Regions from separate parts of the Homo sapiens genome. Here all the other regions are linked to region 2. The links come from fine-mapping of genetic effects on gene expression. A gene starts in region 2. Each other region holds a variant in brackets. All regions are shown on one strand. Distances are from middle to middle.

Region 1 (5,000 bases), 150 kb before region 2:
TGCAAATAGCTTGGAAAGCACAAAGAGCAGCTAGTGCAAGCCTGATCCCATGAGTCCAGTTTCTGGGAAGGTTTGGCAAAGGCAAAGGCAAGTTGAGTCAACATTGTCAGGTGGCATTTTAAACCGAGTCACCTCCATACACCCCCTACCTCCAACCCATTTGTTATTTCCCCAACTTGTTAAGCCCCAGGCAACCACTCCAAGGCATGCTGTTCCTAAAGGGAGGTGATCTGGGGTGGGGCCCGAGAAGAGAAACCAAAGGACCATGTTGTCATCTAATCTGCCAGCCCTGCTGTAGTCTACTGCAGAAGTCTGCCTCAAGGCCACTGCACAGTGGTCAGCTATAGCCCTGGATCCTGGACCCTCCACTGCTAGTGTCCTCCAGCCTGGGAGTTGGTGAAGTCTCTGAGCAGAGATAGAGCAGTCTGTGATGGTGAAAGACACCCAGGCCTATGGTGCGCTGGCTGGCTTATACTGGTTTATAAATGCCAATTGCGTGCATCTCTTCCCCACTCCACATTCAGCATGTTGGTAGCTTGAAACTGACCACAGTGGGGGCATTTATACCATGAAAATCAACAAATGTTATAAAGCAGGGATCTTTTCTTCAGAAGAGTCAGTTGTTGAACATTTACCAGCACATCACTGCCCAGGCCCCACATTCTGAACAGTCCAGCACTGTCCCACTGCTCGGTGCGGGAACTAAAGGATCAGTGAGTGGCACATAGCCTGGTGCCAGGTTGTGCAAACTTTTGGGAGTTTCCATCTCTTCTTTGAAATCTGGGACCCACCAAGACCACCTATGAAGTAGATACCTATACGGAGCCACCATGCCCCTCTATCTTCAGAACAAAATCCTGACCTGTGTCTTTGTTAGTAGAGCAGAACAGATGCCCCCCAAGATCACCTGGCCAGCTCCTTGCCTTTGGGTGAGTGAAAGCCTACCTCTTCCAAAGATAGCAGTGCCAATTTTGAGGATCCTTGGTTCTAGTCTTCTTAAGAGATAGGTTCAGTATCAAATCATCCTTGCATCTGCCAAGATTTTTCTAGCTAATATTTCCCTCTTGCTATAATTTCTTCATACACCATGTTTGGTTTTCCTTTACATGGGGGAATTTGGCAAGCAATTTTTTTTTTTTTTTCAGACAGACTCTTGCTCTGTCGCCAGGCTGGAGTGTAGTGGTGCAATCTCAGCTCACTGCAACCTCCACCTCCCGGATTCGAGTGATTCTCCTGCCTCAGCCTCTTGAGTAGCTGGGACTACAGGCATGCGCCACCATGCCCGGCTAATTTTTATTTTTAGTAGAGACAGGGTTTCACCATATGGCCAGGATTGTCTCCATCTCTTGACCTCATGATCCACCTGCCTCGGTCTCCCAAAGTGCTGGGATTACAGCCGTGAGCCACTGCGCCCCGCCAAGTAATTTCTTATTGAATAGGTTTCCACAGAAAACACCTTTTGTCCCTTAGTACTGACTGACTTTCTTAATCAGTAACCAAAAGCCAATCCTTCAAGTAAGCTTCCTTTTTAGCAAAAAAGCCTATATTTCATCTGAGCACCCAGCTTTATAAATCCACCATTCTCAGTATTGCTACAGTATTAATTGCCTTGGAGATGCATCCATGGGCTACTTAGACATTTGCCCAGCCTACTCAAAGAATTCCCCCTACCTTTGAGGAGCCCCTAGCTGCATGCATGTCTTTGAACAACACTGCCCTCCACAGTAACAGATAAGACAGAAAAGACAAGTGACACTTACTCTGGTTCCAAGGGACTTTGTCCGTGAAGTCTTTGTTTCTGGGGCTTTCTGGGTTTTTATGAATTCAAGTTTCAAGATCCTGACCAAGTAGGAAGTACTCAGCTTCCTGTGTGATGATGGAGAATTGGCTCCAGTTTCACAGTCTTTCAAAATGACAAGAAAGGGACAAA[GTTC/G]TTCTTTTTGTGTGGTTTGGTGCTCATGAATGGCCACAACGCCCACCAGTGGCCACTTCCTGGAAGCCAAGTTAACTGCGAGGATTTTCTCTGCTCACTCTGAGCCTCTTGAGTCTTGGCCCTGGGAGCTCAGCCTTAAGGGAATTGGGGGCAGGTGAAGCTGAGTTGGGTGAGGTGGGTGGCAGTGAGATGTTCCCAGAATGTTTGGAGCAATTGAAGTGTGGGATGTGTGTATGTGGGATGGGGGCAGGGCATAGAGCTCTTGTGGTCAGCGGCAGACTTCTTTTTTTTCTTCTTCTTAAAGATTGTGAATGGAAGGATTTAAACTGGAACCCTGAGTCCTGTTCCTCAAAACTAACTGACATGGGTGCTCACAGAGGCAGCAGCTTCTCTTTGGCACCCTATGCCCCTCGGCTTCTGGGAGCTCATTGTCCCTCTGCTCTCTGCTCCCCAAGTCCCTCCCCACCAAACCTCAGAGAGTGGCTTTGCCCCAGGAACCTCCAGCATGAAGGGAATATAGGTCTGTTGGTTACATTTTGACCTTCCCTTTCTGATGCCCCATTCCTGTTTTACGTGATGGTCAAACATGGGCCAAGTTCAAATCCCAGCTCTCCACCTGTGACATGGGCAGATCACTCACCTTTCTAAGTCTTGGTTCCTACTCTGCTAAATGGGAGTATTGAATGCTTACCTCAGAGGAGAAGCACGAAGTCAACTTGTACATGAAAAATGTCAGAGTGCCTGGCACAGTGAAAAATGTCTGACAAATGATGAGTACTGTGACTCTCCTCACAACTGCCAACACCTACTCTGCCTCTGCCCTTGTGTCTTCTATAAAGTGGGGACACCCCTAACCTTCCTCACGGCATTGCTACAAAGCACTGTTTCAGAAATCATCAGTGTGAATGTGCTTTGAAAAGATCACTTGTCTCTTCATGGTTCAGTTTTCTTATCTGTAAAATGAAGAATTCAGACAAGATGGCCTAAGCTTGACATCTGATCATCACTCAGCTTCACCCCAAAGAAATAAATGGGGGTCTGCATGTGCCTGGCTATTTGCAGTACTTTGCTGGTGGATCAGTTTCCAAAGAGAACAGAGGCTTGTGAGGCCTGCCTTTTCCTTGATCCTGTCTAAAGTAAGGGACATGGTCAGTACCTCATCCTTGACCAGGCTTCCAGCTCTGCTCTAGGTTTCATTCCACAGAGGGGATGTACCAGGCAAATCTGCTTGTTCATTGAACAAATATTTATTCAGTACTCACAATGTGCCGGACATTGTGTTAGGTGCTTGGGATATAGTGGTGAAGAAAGAGGCTGGATCCATTCTTTGAGAGCTTATAGCTTAGGAAGGATCACAAACAATTAACCAAGTTACCACAATGAGGAACAGCTTTTGTAGTGGCCTGGGAAATACCCTGGGCTAAGGAAGGGTGCATCGAGGGTGGGAAGGGGTGAGGAAGTCCTTTAGAGCAGTGGTTCTCAAAGTGAGGTCCCTGGACCAGCAGCATTCACATTCCCTGGGACATTGCTAGCCATGCAAGTTCTGGGGTTACATGCCAGATATACTGACTCAGAAATCCTGGGGATGCGGCCAAGCAATCCAGGTTTTGACAAAGACTGGCATGATTCTGATGCATGCTTAAATTTGGGGGGCATGGATCTAGATTTTCTCAATGCTTTTGGCTCAGAGTCCCATGTGATCTTTCTTCAGAAGAGTTAGGCTGGACCAGCTATGAGCTAGGAAGCCTTCTTTCTCTCTTTAGCTCAAGGCCTAAACAAGAGGCTGCTCAGTTGCCTGCTCTGTCTCCCCTCCCACACCCACACTCAGGTCTCCTATGGCCTTGCAAACCCCTTAGTGCACACACCCCTCTCACCACAGCAGATGTGTACAATGGGGGCAGCACAGAGAGACAAGAGAGAAACCAGCAAAGAGGGATGACCTTGCTCCATTCATTTCTCTTAAAAGCCCTTTGACTCCTCTCCTTAAAAGCTGTAGTGTTCTCTCAAGGTTGCCGTATTGTCCTTGATCCACATCAATGTTCCTCTTCCTTGGAGAGAAGGGGGAGATGTGGGCAGCTTCCTTTGCCCCAGAGAGGTTGCAGTGGAAGCCCAGCACTAAGCCAAACCCTGTCCTGAGACAGCCTTCCACCCCAGCCTTGGCACCAATGTTCAGGGAAGAGATGCAGGGGACCCTGCCAGTGGTGGATGTGGATGACTCTGTCTTTAACACCTGCAGAGCTCATGGACCCTGGCCGTCATCAGGTTCAACCTCATATTCAACTGCTGGGCCTTGTCTTCTGGCCACACACTCTCTCCAAATCAGCGATGGTGGGGAACTGAGGAGCCAGAGGCCATTGTGGAAGAACTCCAAGAAAACAATCTCCAGGTTATCACATCTAAAGCCTGAGCAAGATTTGAGGCTGGGAAGAGGTGGATCCCAGAATTGGAAGAAGGTAGGTGAAACCAGTGTTGCCTCCGCTATGTTAGAGTCACATGGAAGCTTGAAGGACAATTGACTCCTAGGCCCACCCCCAGATATTCTGATGTACTTGGTCTAGGGTGCAGCCTGGGCATTGGAATTTTAATATGTTAAAAAATCTGAGAACTAGAATCCCTGGCCTAAAGCAATGGTTCTCGAATTTGAATATCCATCAGAATCTACAGAGGGCTTGTTAAAACAGATTTCTGGACTTATCTCCAGAGATTAAGTTCAGTAGGTCTGGAATGGGGCCTGAGAATTTACTTTTTTTTTTTTTTTTTTTTAGACAAGGTCTTGCTCTGTCGCCCAGGCTGGGGTGCAGTAGCATGATCATGGCTCACTGCAGCCTCAACCTTCTGGGCTCAAGTGATCCTCCCACTTCAGTCTCCTAAGTAGCTGGAACCACAGGTGCATGGCACCACACCTGGCTAATTTGAAAAAATATGTATATATATATATATATATTTTTTGTAGAAATGGGTGTGTTATCATGTTGCCTAGGTTGGTCTCAAACTCATGGGCTCTAGTGACCCTCTTGCCCCAGCCTCCCAAAGTGCTGGGATTACAGGTGTGACCTGTGATCCCACC
Region 2 (5,203 bases):
TTCCTTCATCTGCTTCTTAATTGCCTTCAGCTCAACAATCCTTATGCAAAAGAGGTACATTTTAGGGTGTCAAATTCTGGTCTCCCACAAAGCATAGGGATGACAGACCACCTCACCATCCCTGTTGCTTCTTTTAAGCCTGCTCACCCCTCCAAAAATATTTTCATTCTATACTGTCTCTTCAAAATCTCAGCGGAGGGTGCCCTCTGTTATCCTGCCCTCTGTGTCAGTATAAGCCAAAGGTTTGAATCCTGGCTCTGCAACTATCTACCTCTGTGCCTCTCCTTGTTTATGAAATTACAGGGCTGGAGACAAAGATCACAATGTGAAGACAAAATTGGAGAGCGGTCCTAATCAGCCAGAGCAAAATTTCTGGCTCTTGCTCTTCCCCATCCTGGGTTGAATCATAGGAACAGGTGGCAAGATGCCAGGGTCAGGAGATTCCAGAAGTGGCAGCAAGCTCAGTGTTACCAGGTCAGGGATGACCTGTCTTATTATTGAAATCTCAGAGATATGCTCCAATTCCGGCCCAGAGACACATTGAGAGACAACTGGGGAACTTGCTATGTTCCTGAACAGGCAATGAGCTGTCTTCCAAGAAAAAACCTGAGACCCTTCAAGTCTCAGGTCTTACTTAGCACATATACCAGGTCTTACACAGGACACATGGTTACAACTGACTGAAATCTGGGCTGGGTGTAGGAGCTCACACCTGTAATCCCAGCCCTTCAGGAGGCTGAGGCAGGCAGATTGCCTGAGCCCAGGAGTTCGAGACCAGCCCGGGCAACATGACAAAACCCCATCTCTACAAAAAATAGTCAGGCATGGTGGCATGCACCTGTAGTCTCAGCTACTTGGGAGGCTGAGATGAGAGGATTGCTTGAGGTTGAGACTGCAGTGAAGCATGATCATGCCACCGCACTCCAGCCTAGGCAACAGAGCAAGATCTTGTCGCAAAAGAAAGCAAAAACACAACATAACACAACAACAACAACAACAACAACAACAGCAAAAAAGCCAACTTCTTGAAATCTGGAAAGGACACCTGGACTGCCCTGAGCATTTGATTGTTGTTGGCTCTAGCAGTGGATGCATCCTTCAACCTCTGGCACTCTGCAGGGCTCAGACTGTTCTGTTCTGTTTGTTACCTGTGGAGTGCCTGCCAGACCCTGCTCTAGCTGCTTTAGGTCCATTTACCCTCATAGACCCCCAGTCTTGTTATTCATATTTCATATTTGGGAAATGGAAACTTAGAAACTTGCCAAGTCCACAGCATGAGATCCTGCCTCCGGTGTCTGCTGGATTCCAGAAAGTGCCAGGGGCCAACTTAGATGACACCATGTTCTCTGCACAATCTTAGGAATGCTCCTAGTCTGATGTCCCCATTGCAAAATTTACATTATCTTTTAACAAAACGTCTTTCCAAGGAGGGGCATTTAAAATAACTGAGGTTCTTCTTGCTAAGGACGTTCCTGACACAAGAGATAATTTAGCATTTCCTTTTCATTAAAAAGTTTGAAATCCTGTAATTTGTGATAATGTGGATGAACCTAGAGGATGTTAAGTGAAATAAGCCACACACAGATAGACAAATACCACGTGATCTCACTCTTATGTGGAATTTTTTTTTAAATAAGTTGCTTAGCCGGGCATGATGGCACACACCTGTAATCCTAGCTACTCAGGAGGCTGAGGTGGGAGGATGGCTTGAACTCAGAAGGTGGAGGTAGCAGTGAGCTGAGACTGTGCCAGTGCACTCCGGTCTGGGTGACAGAATGAAACCCAATTTAAAAAAAAAAAAAAAGTTGCTATCTTAGAAAAAGACAGTAGAGCAGTGGTTACCAGAGACTGGGGAGGAAAGAGAGGAGGTGAGAATGGGCAGCAGTTGATCAACGGGTACAAAGTTACCATGAGATAGGAGAAACAAGTGCTGGTGCTCTGCTCCAAGTAGGGTGACGGTAGTTAATAATGAATTCTGTATATATAAATAGCTAGAAGAGAGGGTTTTCAATATCATTATTATTTCAAAAGAAATGATAAATGTTTCAGAGGATGGATATGTAATTACCCTGATTTGATCATTGCACAATGTATACATGTAGCAAAACATCACATTGTGTCCCATAAATATATACAATTATTATGTGAATTAAATAAAAAAAAATTTTAAAGTCTTATCTAAATGAAATTTCTAACCAGATTCTGAATCCATGATACCACTGAAACCAGCACACATGATCGCAGTAAAACCTCATTATACTTCCTCCACTATCACCAATACCCTTTATTCTCTGGAACATGAAACATTCTGTTGTGCTCATATCATGCAAATTATCACTAGTAGGAGAGCAGAGAGTGGAAATGTTCCAGGTATAAAGACCCACAAGATAAAGAAGCTCAGAGTCGTTAGAAACAGGAGCAGATGTACAGGGTTTGCCTGACTCACACTCAAGGTTGCATAAGCAAGATTTCAAAATTAATCCTATTCTGGAGACCTCAACCCAATGTACAATGTTCCTGACTGGAAAAGAAGAACTATATTTTTCTGATTTTTTTTTTCAAATCTTTACCATTAGTTGCCCTGTATCTCCGCCTTCACTTTCTGCAGGAAACTTTATTTCCTACTTCTGCATGCCAAGTTTCTACCTCTAGATCTGTTTGGTTCAGTTGCTGAGAAGCCTGACATACCAGGACTGCCTGAGACAAGCCACAAGCTGGTGAGTTGTAGGCATTTTTTCCATTACTTTCTGATTCATAGGCTCAACGCACCTCAAAGCTGGAAATGCCGGGTCTGGGTACACCCTGGGGAACTGCAAAGCCTGCACACTTGGGGGGAATGATCAAGATGAGAGGCAGGGGTGGGGATGGCATGTGCACCAGGAGATGTTAGAGAAACCCTGAGGAAGAGCAGCGTGCAGCAGGTGATGGGGGAGAGTGGGCAGCAAGCGAGGCCAGGACAGCCACTCTGCTCAGTCACCAGTCCACACACCCAGGGGCTCACTCTGCCCCTCTGAGCACCCAAGGACGTTAAAGAGCTGGAACTGTTAGTCTAAATATAGGACCATCCAAGCTCTGAACCAAAATGTGTCCCTTGCCTCAACTCAGGAGATCCACAGAGGCAGAAGTAAGGAATTTATTTTCTGAAAGATAGATTTCTATCAGTTCTGGGTGACATGTTCTGACACTTGAAATGACACCTAGGACAGCACATTTCAGGCATCTTGCTCATTGTTCACTGTAGTAGAAGCTACATGCTAGCCAGTTGTAAAAATGAAATTAAGTAATGTGTGCACAGCATTTAACATAGCATCTGAGCTTCAGGAGCACTCAATTAATGACCACAGTTGTGATTCTTTAGGCAGATGCATTTTTTTCCAACTTTGATCAGAGGTCTTATTTAGCTTCTCCAGATTTCAAGAATCTGGCTCAGTGATATGAAATACAAGACTTGTGAAAAGTGTCAATTGCAAGAGAAATGGAAGGATAAAGTATACAGGTGGGTGGAAAAGAAATTCACAGTCACTGCCAGAAAAAAAATTCTTGAGAATCAAGTCCTGATGATGTTAGGGCTTATAGTTCTTATTATAAAGAGTTTTATGTACTCATTCAGTGAACATTTATTGGTGCCTCCTTTAGCCAGGTACTATCATAAGAGCTGAAAATAGAAGCATAATCCAGTCCTTGATCTTGAGGAACATGCTGTGTGTAGCAGATAACATAATAAGTGCTTATCTAGATGCATGCAGTGTTATGTGATAAGAGTAATATGACAGAGGATACAGATTAGGCTTCACAGAGAAGGGGGATTTGAGCAGGAGGTATTGAAGGGTGAATAGAAGCTCACCAATCATTTTGGGCAGAGGGGCAAGGACCTGCAAAACCACTGAAGCATGAAGGAAATGGTGAGTTTAGGGAAAATGAAGAGAAGATGGCTGTGACTGAAGCACAGGATTTGGGATTGGAGAAGGGACTGGAGGTGAGGCTGAAAAGAGGCAAACTCAGAAAAGATGTTGTGCTGGGCAGTCTGGACATTATCTTTGAAGCCCACCACATATAAGTCATAGGGCTACTGGAGGTTTTAAGCTAAGAGTGACTATTCAATTTCAACTTAAGAGAAGATAGGTTGAGAGGGAACATGGCTTGAGATGAGCCATGAGCAAAGGAAAGACTACAACAAAGCCAGGAGTGAGGAGTGTGTGAAGCAAGAAAGTGACAGTTGAAAGCAGTGCAGAGGGGATGAATCTGAGAGGCATCTATGAGGTGGAACTCAAATGACATGATAATAATACAGGGCATTTCTCTGTGTCAGATGCTGTCCTAAGTCCTTACTCCATTGATCTTCACAGCAACTCAGCATAGTTAATATTTTATGCATAAAGAAATCGGCACTTGAAGGAGTAATTGGCCCCAGATTACACTGCCTATAAGGATTCAAATCCAGGTTTGTTTGGCTCCAAAAACTGGCTCCTAATTTTCAGAAGGAGAAGCAACCCAGGGCAATGCCCAATTTTGCTTCTTAGGCAATGGAGGAATCCACAATCGGAAGGAGTTTTCAGCAGTGCCCCATTTGGGGTGGGTTGAATTTGAGGTCCCTGCATGATACCCACTTTGCTCACTTCAGTGCCTAAAACTGAGTATGGTTCATAGTAGGTGTTCAATAAGTGTTGATGCAGTGAATACATGCATGGGGAGATATGCATCAGGCAATGGGAAATTCAACTCTAAGGCTTAGGGGAAAGCTGGAGCTTGAAGACAGAGCTTTAGAAAACAGTAGCATAGAAGGGAGTAGGAACCATGAGTTTAGACAATACAATTCAGGAAGAACTTTGTAGCAAGGATAAAGAGGCAAAAAATTAAAGAGGTGAGAGCTAAGTGTGGTGCCTGGGGAATCTTAAGGTGTGGGCACGGGGAGGAGATGCCAGCAAAGAACATGAATAAAAAGCGGTAGCACAGCCCCTCCCATCTGGAAGCCAAAAAGAATTGTAAATGGAGGAAGTTAGCAGAAGGATCAAATACTTGAAGAGGGTGGAATTGGAATAAAACCAGGGCATTTGAAAAATTGGGTTGTCACTGCAATCTTAACAAGAGAAGTTTTGGCAGGATGATGGAGGCAGAAAGCTGAGAGAATCATCAGTTAGAACGTTTTTGACTTCAGAGAACAGAAAATGCAGTTCATAATGGCTTTAAAACAGGGGCTTGTTTT
Region 3 (5,203 bases), 100 kb before region 2:
ATTCAGCATAGTCCTGCCAGCAAAGATTATTTATTTACTTCAAGAGTTAAGAGCGGCGGTTTGGGGATAGCACGAGGAGATATCAGCTGTGATGGCTTGAAAAAACAGTGTAAACTGGCAGTGTAAACAAGAGCAGGGCATGTATGAGTAGTTGAGAACAGAGAACAGGAGTATGACTAGATAGAAAATAGTAGGGATGACAAGTTTTTTTGGGGCACAGTCTAAGGTGGTCCGGTGTCTGGAATGAGACTGGGGGCCTAATGAAAAGGAGCATCTATACAGGAACTTAAATGGGCTGTACCTTATAGCATTCCGAGGACAGGTCTGACTTCTGAGAAGGGAAAGTGGTGAAAGTATTGTCCAGTTCTTTTTAAGTTGGTGGCTGAGCTTGGTGAGGTGTGTTTTTAAAAGACCTTTAGTCCGTTCTACTTTTCTTGAAGACAGAGGACTATAAGGGATATAAAGGTTTCACTGAATACTAAGAGCCTGAAAAACTGCTTGGCTGATTTGACTAATAAAGGCTGGTCTGTTATCAGACTGTATAGAGGTGGGAAGGCTAAACTGAGGAATTATGTCTGACAGAAGGGAAGAAATGACTGCGGTGCCCTTCTCAGACCCTGTAGGAAAGGCCTCTACCTATCTAGTGAAAGTGTCTACTTAGACTAAGAGGTATTTTAGTTTTTGTGACTCAGGGCATGTTGAGTAAAGCTAATTTGCCAGTCCTGGGCAGGGGCAAATCCTCGAGCTTGATGTGTAGGGAAGGGAGGGGGCCTGAATAATCCTTGAGGAGTAGTAGAATAGCACATAGAATAGCAGATGGAACACTGAGAAGTGATTTCCTTGAGGATAGATTTCTACAATGGAAAGGAAATGAGAGGTTCTAAGAGGCAGGCTAGTGGCTTGTACTATAGCATAGCCTGCCTTTGCTGGTGTGTGGTGATTAGGCCTGGTGGAACTGCCATCAATAAATCAAGCATGATCAGGGTGAGGAACAGGAAAGAAGGAGATATGGGGAAATGGGGTGAATGTCAGGTGGATCAGAGAGATACAGTCATGAGGGTCAGGTGTGGTTTCTGGAATAATGTGGGAGGCTGGACTGAAGTCCGGGCCAGGAATGATGGTAATTGTGGGAGACTTAACAAAGAGTGAGTACAGCTGAAGGAGCCAAGGAGCAGAAAGTATATGCATCAGGTATGAGGAAGAAAATAGATTTTGGAAGTTATGAGAAATGTAGAGAGTGAGTTGAGCATAGTTTGTGATTTTTAGGGCCTCTAAAAGTATTAAAGCAGTGGCAGCTGCTGCATGCAGACATGAGGGCTAGGCTAAAACAGTAAGATCAAGTTGTTTGGACAGAAAGGCTACAGGGTGCAGTCCTGGCTCTTGTGTAAGAATTCTGACTGCACTAACCATGCCTAGGAAGGAAAGGAGTTGTTGTTTTGTAAGGGATTGAGGTTTGGGAGATTAATCGGACAGGATCAGCAGGGAGAGCACGTGTGTTTTTATGAGAATTATGCCGAGATAGGTAACAGATGACGATGAAATTTGGGCTTGACTGAAGTAATGGGGGCTGTCTGTGAAACCTTGTGGCAGTACAGCCCAGGTAATTTGCTGAGCCTAATGGGTGTCAGGGTCAGTCTAAGTGAAAGCAAAGAGAGGCTGGGATGAAGGGTGCAAAGGAATAGTAAAGAAAGCATGTTTGAGATCCAGAACAGAATAATGGGTAGTAGAGGGAGGTATTGAGGATAGGAGGTTATATGGGTTTGGCCCCACGGGGTGGATAGGCAAAACAATTTGGTTGATAAGGTGCAGATTCTGAACTAACTTGTAAGGCTTGTCTGGTTTTAGGACAGGTAAAATGGGGGAATGGTAAGGAGAGTTTATAGGCTTTAAAAGGCCATGCCTTAGCAGGCGAGTGATAACAGGCTTTAATCCTTTTAAAGCGTGCTGTGGGATGGGATCTTGGCATTGAGCAGGGTAAGGGTGATTAGGTTTTAACGAGATGGTAAGGGGAGCATGATTGGTCGCCAAGGAGGGAGTAGAGGTATCTTATACTTGTGGGTTAAGGTGGGGGAATACAAGAAGAGGACGCAAAGGAGGCTTTGGATTGGGAAGAAGGGCAGCAATGAGATGCGGCTATAGTCCAGGAATAGTCAGGGAAGCAGATAATTTGGTTAAAATATCT[C/T]GGCCTAATAAGGGAACTGGGCAGGTGGGGATAACTAAAAAAGAGTGCATAAAAGAGTATTGTCTAAGTTGGCACCAGAGTTGGGGAGTTTTAAGAGGTTTAGAAGCCTGGGCATCAATACCCACAACAGTTATGGAGGCAAGGGAAACAGGCTCTTGAAAAGAAGGTAATGTGGAGTGGGTAGCCTCTGTATTGATTAAGAAGGGGATGGACTTACCCTCCACTGTGAGAGTTACCTAAAGCTCGGCATCTGTGATGGTCTATGGGGCTTCCGAGGCGATCAGGCTGTGTCAGTCTTCAGCCGCTAAGCCAAGAAGGAGTCAGTCAGAGAGCCTTGGGCCAGAGTTCCAGGGGCTCTGGGAGTGGCTGCCAGGTGAGTTGAACAGTCTGATTTCCAGTGGGGTCCCACACAGATGGGGGAATCCTGGGCTGCAGGCATTCCTTGGCCTGGTGGTCAGATTTCTGGCACTTGTAGCAAGCTCCTCGGGGAGGAGGTTCTGGAGGAACGCCTGGCCACTGCGGTTCAGGTGTTTGGAAGTTCTTGTGTGCTGGGGATGTGGCTGGGGTTTGTCTCACAGTGGAGGCAGGGAATTGCAACTTTTTTTTTTTATCATTGTACACCTTGAAGGTGAGGTTAATTAAGTCCTGTTGTGGGGTGTGAGGGCCAGATTCTAATTTTTGGAGTTTTATTTAATGTCGGGAGCAGATTGGGTAATAAAATGTATATTGAGAATAAGATGGCCTTTTGACCTTTTAGGGTCTAGGGCTGTAAAGCGTCTCAGGGTTGCTGCCGAATGAGCCATGAACTGGGCTGGGTTTTTATATTTGATGAAAAAGAGCCTAAACGCTTCTGATTTGGGATAAAGAAAAAGGAGCATTAACCTTGACTATGCCTTTGGCTCCAGGCACCTTTTTAAGAGTAAATTGCTGGGCAGGTGGGGAAGGGCTAGTGATGGAACGAAACTGTAAGCCGGACCAGGTGTGAGGAGGTGAGGCGATAAAAAGATTACAGGGTGGAGGAGTGGAGGCTGAGGAAGAATTGGGACCTAGCTTGGCCTGGCAAGGAGGGGAGAGGTCAGATGGGTCTGTAGAAAAGGAAGATTAGAAAGACTCAGCGATGCTTGGGGTTGGGACTGAGGGGACAGGCGGGAGGGAAACAAGGAAGATTTGGGACAAGTTGCACTGGGCACAGAGACTAGGAAGGGACTGATGTGTAAAAGAATGCCTGGACATCAGGCACCTCAGACCATTTGCCTATTTTAAGACAAGAATTATTTAGATCTTGTAGGATGGAGAAATCGAAAGTGCCATTTTCTGGCCATTTAGAGCCATTGTCAAGTTTGTATTGGAGCCAAGCAGTGTTGCAGAAGAAAATAAGGCGTTTAGGTTTTAGGACAGGTGTAAGTTGAGGTTTTAAGTTCTTGAGGACACAGGCTAAAGGAGAAGAAGGAGGAATGGAGGGTGGAATTTTGCCTATAGTGAAGGAGGCAAACCCAGAGAAAAGAGAGAGTAGAGACATGGAGGGAAGGGGTTCAGGGGTTCTTACCCTCCAGAAAAGCGGGAAGGGGGGTTGGGGCATGGAAATAAGGGATTGGGGCACAGAGATAAGAGGTCTGGGTGCGGAAATAAGGGATTGGGGCACAGAGATAAGAGGTCAGGGTGAGGAAATAAGGGATTGGGGTGCAGAGATAAGAGGTTGGGGTGCAGAAATAAGGGATTGGGGGTTCTTGCCCCCTAGAAAAGTGGGACTTGCCACTAAGAGTGAAGGAGAAGGGGTTGAGGGGTACTTGCCCCTCCCCCAGAAAAGCAGAGAAGGGGTAGAGACATGGAGAGAAGGGGTTGAGGTACTTGCCCCTTTCCCAGAAAAGTGGGACTTGCTGCTAAGGGTGAAGGACCAAGGCAGGCGTCCCTGCGTGGTCTGACACCCTTGAAACGTGGGTGAATAATCAGAGAGGCGTCCCTGCAATGATTAAACACCAAGGGAAGGCTGCCTTCCCAGTCTGTGACCGGCGCCGGAGTTTTGGGTCCATGGATAAAAGGTGTCTCCTTTGTCTCTACCAGAAAATGAAAGGAATTGAAATTAAGAGAAGGGAGAGATTGAAGTGTGGCGCCAAGATTGAAAGGAGAAAGAGGTTGAGGGATAGTGAGGGAGGTTGGAGAAGAGAGTAAAAAGAGGCCGCTTACTGGATTTGAAGTTGGTGAGATGTTTCTTGGGCTGGTCGGTCTGAGGACCTGAGGTCGTAGGTGGATCTTTCTCACGGAGCAAAGAACAGGAGGACAGGGGATTGATCTCCCAAGGGAGGTCCCACAATCCGAGTCACGGCACCAAATTTCATGTGCATCCTTGTGAAGAGACCACCAAACAGGCTTTGTGTGAGCAACATGGCTGTTTATTTCACCTGAGTGCAGGCGGGCTGAGTCCGAAAAGAGAGTCAGCAAAGGGAGATAAGGGTGGGGCTGTTTTATAGGATTTGGGTAGGTAAAGGAAAATTGCAGTCAAAGGGGGTTTGTTCTCTGGCAGGCAGGAGTGGGGGTCACAAGGTGCTCAGTGGGGGTGATTTAAAATCACCTAGCCAGGATGAGCTAGGAAAAGGACTTTCACAAGGTAATGTCATCACTTAAGGCAAGGACCAGCCATTTACACTTCTTTTGTGGTGGAGTGTCATCAGTTAAGGTGGGGCAGGGCATATTCACTTCTTTTGTGATTCTTCAGTTACTTCAGGACATCTGGGCATATATGTGCAAGTCACAGGGGATGCAATGGCTTGGCTTGGGCTCAGAGGCCTGACACTTTCTACATGTGGTTATTTAAATTAAATAAAATGAAAAGTTCAGTTTCTCAATTGCAGTAGCCACATTTCAAGTGCTCAATAGCCATGAGGCTAGTTTCTGTCTTTTTTTTTTTTTTTTTTTTTTTTGAGACAGGGTCTTACTCTGTCTCCCAGACTGGAGTGGAGTGGCACGATCTCAGCTCACAGCAAACTCCGCATCCCAGGCTCAAGAGATTCTCCTGCCTCAGCC
Region 4 (5,203 bases), 41 kb before region 2:
GGATTACAGGCGCGGGCCACCACGCCTGGCCATAATTTTTTTTTTAAATTTTCTGTCTGTTGTTCAGATTAGGTCATTTCTATTGTTCATTCTTCCAGTTCACTGATTCTTTTCTCTGTCTCCTCCATTCTGCTCTTGAACCCATCCAGTCAGTTTTCTTCTAACATTTAAGCAAAATGTTTTATTGACTTTAGGTAAGCTGGGAATAATTGCCTACATTTATGCTTTAAGGCATTTTACCTCATTGTAAAAAAAAAAAAAAACAAAACACACAAAGATAAATGTTAGATACTTCTGGCTTTCATGTGTTTGAGGCTCTGGGCTGAGAGAATGTTCAGCCCTTTCCTATAATATGTGCTTCTGTATTACAACTCATCAACCAAAGGTGTATGTTCCAATTGTTGCCATTAACAAGTAGAAGTTTGTTTCTAGCCAGAAGCAAACTTCTTTGCAGAATTGATGATGACAGCACTAGCCAACCAACTAATCTACTGAAGGACTGGTGATATTGGCTTGTAAGAACCAGTAACTACAGCCTGGGGCCTGACTTCTTCTATGAAACCCTCGGAAGACTTCACTTATATTTGGTATCCAGCTTTCAGTTTGTTCTTGGCAGCCTGGACATTGAAAAGCTTTTCTTGAGCAATTATTTCCACTTGGTTATAGGTAGCCTTGATAACATCTCCAGCAGCTGCAGCCTGGAAGACAATGTACATCCTGAAGAGTCCAAAATTGGAGTAACTAGCATTAAAAACAGAAATAGCAAGTGGCTGGTGAATTGCCTTGGCAATAGCCTGCTATAGATAGCTGGTGGCATCACTGTGCCCCTTGACATATGGTGTCCCTCTTGATATGCTGAAAAACACTAAATGCATTTGCTGTGCCCTTCTTGTGGCAGCACTTTCTGCTACAAGAGCAAGCATGGACAAGACTGTCTCCATTTTGTTCCTGAATTTCACCTCCAGAGTATTTGGCTTTTGTACCAGACAAAAGAAACCCACCCCTCCTGTTGAGAAACTATTCAGCAACTTGCTTTAGAACAGGGTGACTCACACCAAGTCCAACCAAGCCATTCTTGCACTTGTGAAGTGGTTCTAAACATAGTAATGTAACTCTTCCCATGTCACTTTTCCAATCCTATAGCCAGGACAATACAAGGAATTAGCCAAGGCATCCCAATAAGCTTCAGTATGCAAATTTTCAATGACATGTGCCTGTGGATTCTGAAAATTCACAGATCTGTCTATCCTTAGCTGAGACTGAAGGCATCTACTTCCCAATGACCAAATCCTGGTGCTGTGGCGACACTGAGCAGGAACTCCATTAGAATATCAATATCACTCTGCAGACATTCCATGATGTAAGCTATGTTTTCTCTTGTTGCAATTACACTTAATTTACCACCAGCTGCTTCAATGTCATGGGCTATCTTGAAAAATGAAGCTCCTTTCGTAGTCAAACTGGATGCAAGACACAGCAAATGAGAAGTTACTAAATTGTTGGAGTCCTCATAGCTACTGCCTGCTTTAATGAACAAACCAATTCTTGATGCAGGGCATAGTTTTCCAAAGGAGAAATCATAAAACCATTTGGAAATTTGATGATCTCAAGGTCCTGATGATGTGGAGCCACTCCTATGGGGGTAGCTGTGGCTTTAACTTTGGGGGCAACTTTGAGGGAATAAAGTCTCAAAAAGAGGGAATAAAGTCTCAAGATTGTTCGTGACCCATAGTAACTTCTGGCTTAAAGGACCATTCGGCAAGTTTTTAAATGTATTTTCTATAATTTCCATGTAGTTCTTTATATTTTCTATTTCTTATTTAAAACCTCTATTTTAGCTCGTTTCCTTTGACACTGCTCTGGCAGGGAAAGGGGTGGCACTGCCTCATTACTGCCAGGTAGGGGTAGAAGTCCATTATCCACTTGGTCTCCATTGATACCCAAAGTGGGGAGAGGCTCCTGTTACTGCTGGTGAGGGTGGGAGTCCCCCCACTAAGTTTCTGCTAATACTGTCCTGGTGGCTTGCTACTATTCCCATGAAGCCTCCACTGATACTACATTACTTTTGGGTGGTGGCAAATGTCCTGCCTCTCCACTAGCCCTCCTGCTCTAAAACAACCCGAGTAGGGAGTGGGAAGGAAGCTTTGTTACTGGTAGGTGGGAGCTGAAGTCCAGACTTGCCACATTGTCCCACTGATGCTACAGGGAGGAGGAAGCGGGCCACATTACTGCCTGATAGGGATGAAAGCCCCAGCTCCCTACCTGGCCTTCGCTGATACCAGCCTGCTACAGGAGTGAAGAGAGATTTGAAGGCCTCAATATAGCCTGTCGAGGGTGGAAGTCTTGCTCCCAATGGGCCTTTAGCAGCATGGGTGGGTGTGGGGCCATAGCTGTCTCTGTACTGCTTGGCTAGAGTGGAGTATTTGAGGTCCAAAAGTTTTCTGTCTTTCTAGCCCTTTGGTTAGAAAGAGCAGACTTTTGTTGGAAGTATTTTTTTGTGTTTACCTGTTGTATTTCCAGGTTCCTAGCTTCTCCAGCACAGTCTGGGATGTGTGAGACACAGAGAAAATCCAGTGATGTTACTACCGTATGGTTTCTTGGGTCCCAACGTCTCTAGCTAATCTGCTCCACCTTTTGGAGTTTTCTTATTTGTTTTAGATCAGGGATTTAGTCATATTTAATAGGAGAAATATGGAAAAATACTTCTACTCTATCTTCCTGGAAGTTCCTGTTTATTTTTTATGTCCTTTTCCTCTGGCTAGACCGTAAGAGACTTACGAAACAAACACTTACACATTCTACTAAACTCAATGTCCAAAGTTTGTGAACTTCTTGAATATTGCTTGTTCATTTCCACCCCCAGTCACTGACTGAATCTCCCTGCTGTCTGTCTACAATGCCAATGAGCTTCTGGTTAACTTCTTCTCATGCATGCTTAGGCAACAACTTCCCAGTTTTACTACACTTGCCCATCCCTAGTTTTGTTGTTGCTTAATCCCTTGGCCTAGTGCCACCATACTCCTCCAGCAGAGCAACCAATTCTTACATTATAGGACAGCACATATCCACTAAAAACAGTTCATGCCACACCAACCACATTTCCCTTTGTCAACAAAATTACT[T/C]GATAGATAATTCCAGGAATGCCTGATGAAGCTGATTGACAACAAGATATTTGGCAGACTCTCTGCTGCCTATACATACCTTAGCATGTGGAACTCAAGTAATGAGAGGTCCATTTAATTGGATTGAATTGGGCTGGATAGGATTGGATTGAATCCTGTGGGATGGCTAGGCTAAATTAGAAATGAAGACTAGTTTAACAGCAGTATCCAAGGATAGTTGACTAATGAGTTAATTTTACTCTCAAAGACAGTCTTTAGTAGTAAGCTGTAATGCATTATATCAAACTATTTTCCAGTCAATGATTTATAAGTTACTTGAATAAGGATGCTAAAGATGTGCCTTATTGAAATGGCAATTAGCACAAAGTTGGGAATGAAATCTAATTAGTTAAATAACAGAATCACATAAAAAAGGACTTGAATAAATGTAGCATCCTACCATGTTCCTGGATAGAAAGACTGCTATCGTAAAGATATTCATTCTCCTCAGGTTAAATTATAAACTCAATGCAATTCAACAGGATTTTAAAAAACTAGACAAAGTGATTCCAAGTTTACGTGGAAAATAAAATGTGAGGGACCAAACAATATTTGAAAAAGAAAGAGAATAAAATCTCATCCTTCCAGATACCACAATGTATTATAAAGCAATAGTAATTAACATGAGGGCAGAAATGAGCAAGCAAGTGAACAAAATAAGACAGATAGTCACAGGAAACTCATATATTTATAGGTGCTTTGCGTATAATGAAGATGGTCCTTCAAATCAGTTGGGAAAAGATGGGTTATTCAATAAATGGTGTTGGGTAAAATTGGTTATACATTGGTGAGAAATAAAGTGAAACTCCTACTTTGTATCATATGCAAAAAATAGATTCCAGACAGATGAAATATTTAAATGTAAAAAATAAAATTCTAAAACTACTAGAAAAAAAAGAAGAATATTTTTATTCCTTTGAAATAGAAAAGGTCTTACTAAGCAAAACACAGAAGTAATAAATGAATAAATGAAGACAAATATGATAAAAATAAGTTAAAAATATAAGCAATCTTTCTTTGTTTTTTTTTCACCTTTCCTAGAAAAAAATATATAGGCAACTTGTTAAGCAAGGTAGATTACAAGAAAATATTTACAACATTTGACAGGCCACAGATTATTATCCAGCCTCATCTGATAAGAAAACTTCAACATAAAGATATCTGTTTTTTTTCTTATAAGGTTCCTCAAAGTGAGCCAATCACTTCTTAAGCTGAACAAAAAACAAAACAGAAGTGATCTTTTCCAATAATGAAAACAAACATTGACAGAGCAGCTGTAGGATCCTTTCAGGCAAATTATGAAAAGGTGCCCTTTCTCAGAAACCACAGTTACCATTCAGCTTTGTGACCAGAGGTTTGACTGTACCCTAGTCCCTACTAGCAACCCAACCACATAACCAACTTCAAAGGTCCTGAATGACTGTGTTGTACTTAATGGCAGATGATCTATCTCCCATTTTTGTCCTAAGGATTTTCCAAGATAATATATTTCTGCATTTGTTTTGCTTTTACTTCACTCCAAATTGAAATCTATTTGTGGGATAAGACTAAAGAAATGCTTATAGGAAAATTGATAGCACCAAATTCCTATCTTAAAAAATGAAAAAGGTTTCAAATCAATGACCTCAGCTTTTACTTTAAGAAAATAGAAAAAGCAGGATAAGCTAAAGCCAAAGTAAACAGAAGAAAGGAAATTATAAAGATAAGAGCAGAAATCAATGAATAGAAAACAAAAGAAAAAAATCAAACCAAACAGCTGATTCTTTAAGCAGATCTATAAAATTGATAAAACTCTAGCCAGATTGATCAAGTAAAAAAGAGAGAAGACACAAATTACCAGTATTAAGAATGAGAGAGGCAATATCACTACAGATCCTACAGATATAAAAAGTATAAGGGCATACTTTGAATAATTTTATGACTATAAATTAGGCAACTTAGATAAAACAAATTTCTTGAAAGACACAAACAACCAAAGCTCACCTAAAATACTCACAAATTGAATAGTCTTATAGCTATTACAAAATTGAGGCCAGGCGCAG

Which allele goes with the higher level. Alleles are on the strand shown, and positions count from the first base shown. SD is a standard deviation of normalised expression in the study named. Not every link is listed here.
In carriers of allele C in region 3, the expression in monocytes after LPS of the gene that starts at base 2,651 in region 2 tends to be higher than with T alone (moderate effect, 0.58 SD a copy in Quach 2016).

Evidence for each region.
Region 1: its variant is fine-mapped to the expression of CCR2 in whole blood (TOPMed, PIP above 0.99). The same link has a PIP of 0.9 or more in blood mononuclear cells and monocytes.
Region 3: its variant is fine-mapped to the expression of CCR2 in monocytes after LPS (Quach 2016, PIP 0.95).
Region 4: its variant is fine-mapped to the expression of CCR2 in whole blood (INTERVAL, PIP above 0.99). The same link has a PIP of 0.9 or more in sun-exposed skin.

Annotation. Positions count from the first base shown.
Region 1 is chr3:46,206,522-46,211,521 of GRCh38, forward strand. It overlaps CCR1 (C-C motif chemokine receptor 1), which reads right to left and starts at 1,792. Exons shown (of 2, transcript NM_001295.3): 1 at 1,761-1,792. It also overlaps a transcript of CCR3 not described here. The variant GTTC/G (reference allele first, on the strand shown) is at 1,931.
Region 2 is chr3:46,351,461-46,356,663 of GRCh38, forward strand. CCR2 (C-C motif chemokine receptor 2) reads left to right here and starts at 2,651. Exons shown (of 2, transcript NM_001123396.4): 1 at 2,651-2,717.
Region 3 is chr3:46,247,094-46,252,296 of GRCh38, forward strand. The region is part of intron 1 of CCR3 (C-C motif chemokine receptor 3); the gene reads left to right. Among named protein-coding and RNA genes, the nearest start is that of CCR3, 7.2 kb to the left of the region's middle. The variant C/T (reference allele first, on the strand shown) is at 2,183.
Region 4 is chr3:46,310,226-46,315,428 of GRCh38, forward strand. It overlaps the pseudogene UQCRC2P1. Among named protein-coding and RNA genes, the nearest start is that of CCR2, 41 kb to the right of the region's middle. The variant T/C (reference allele first, on the strand shown) is at 3,123.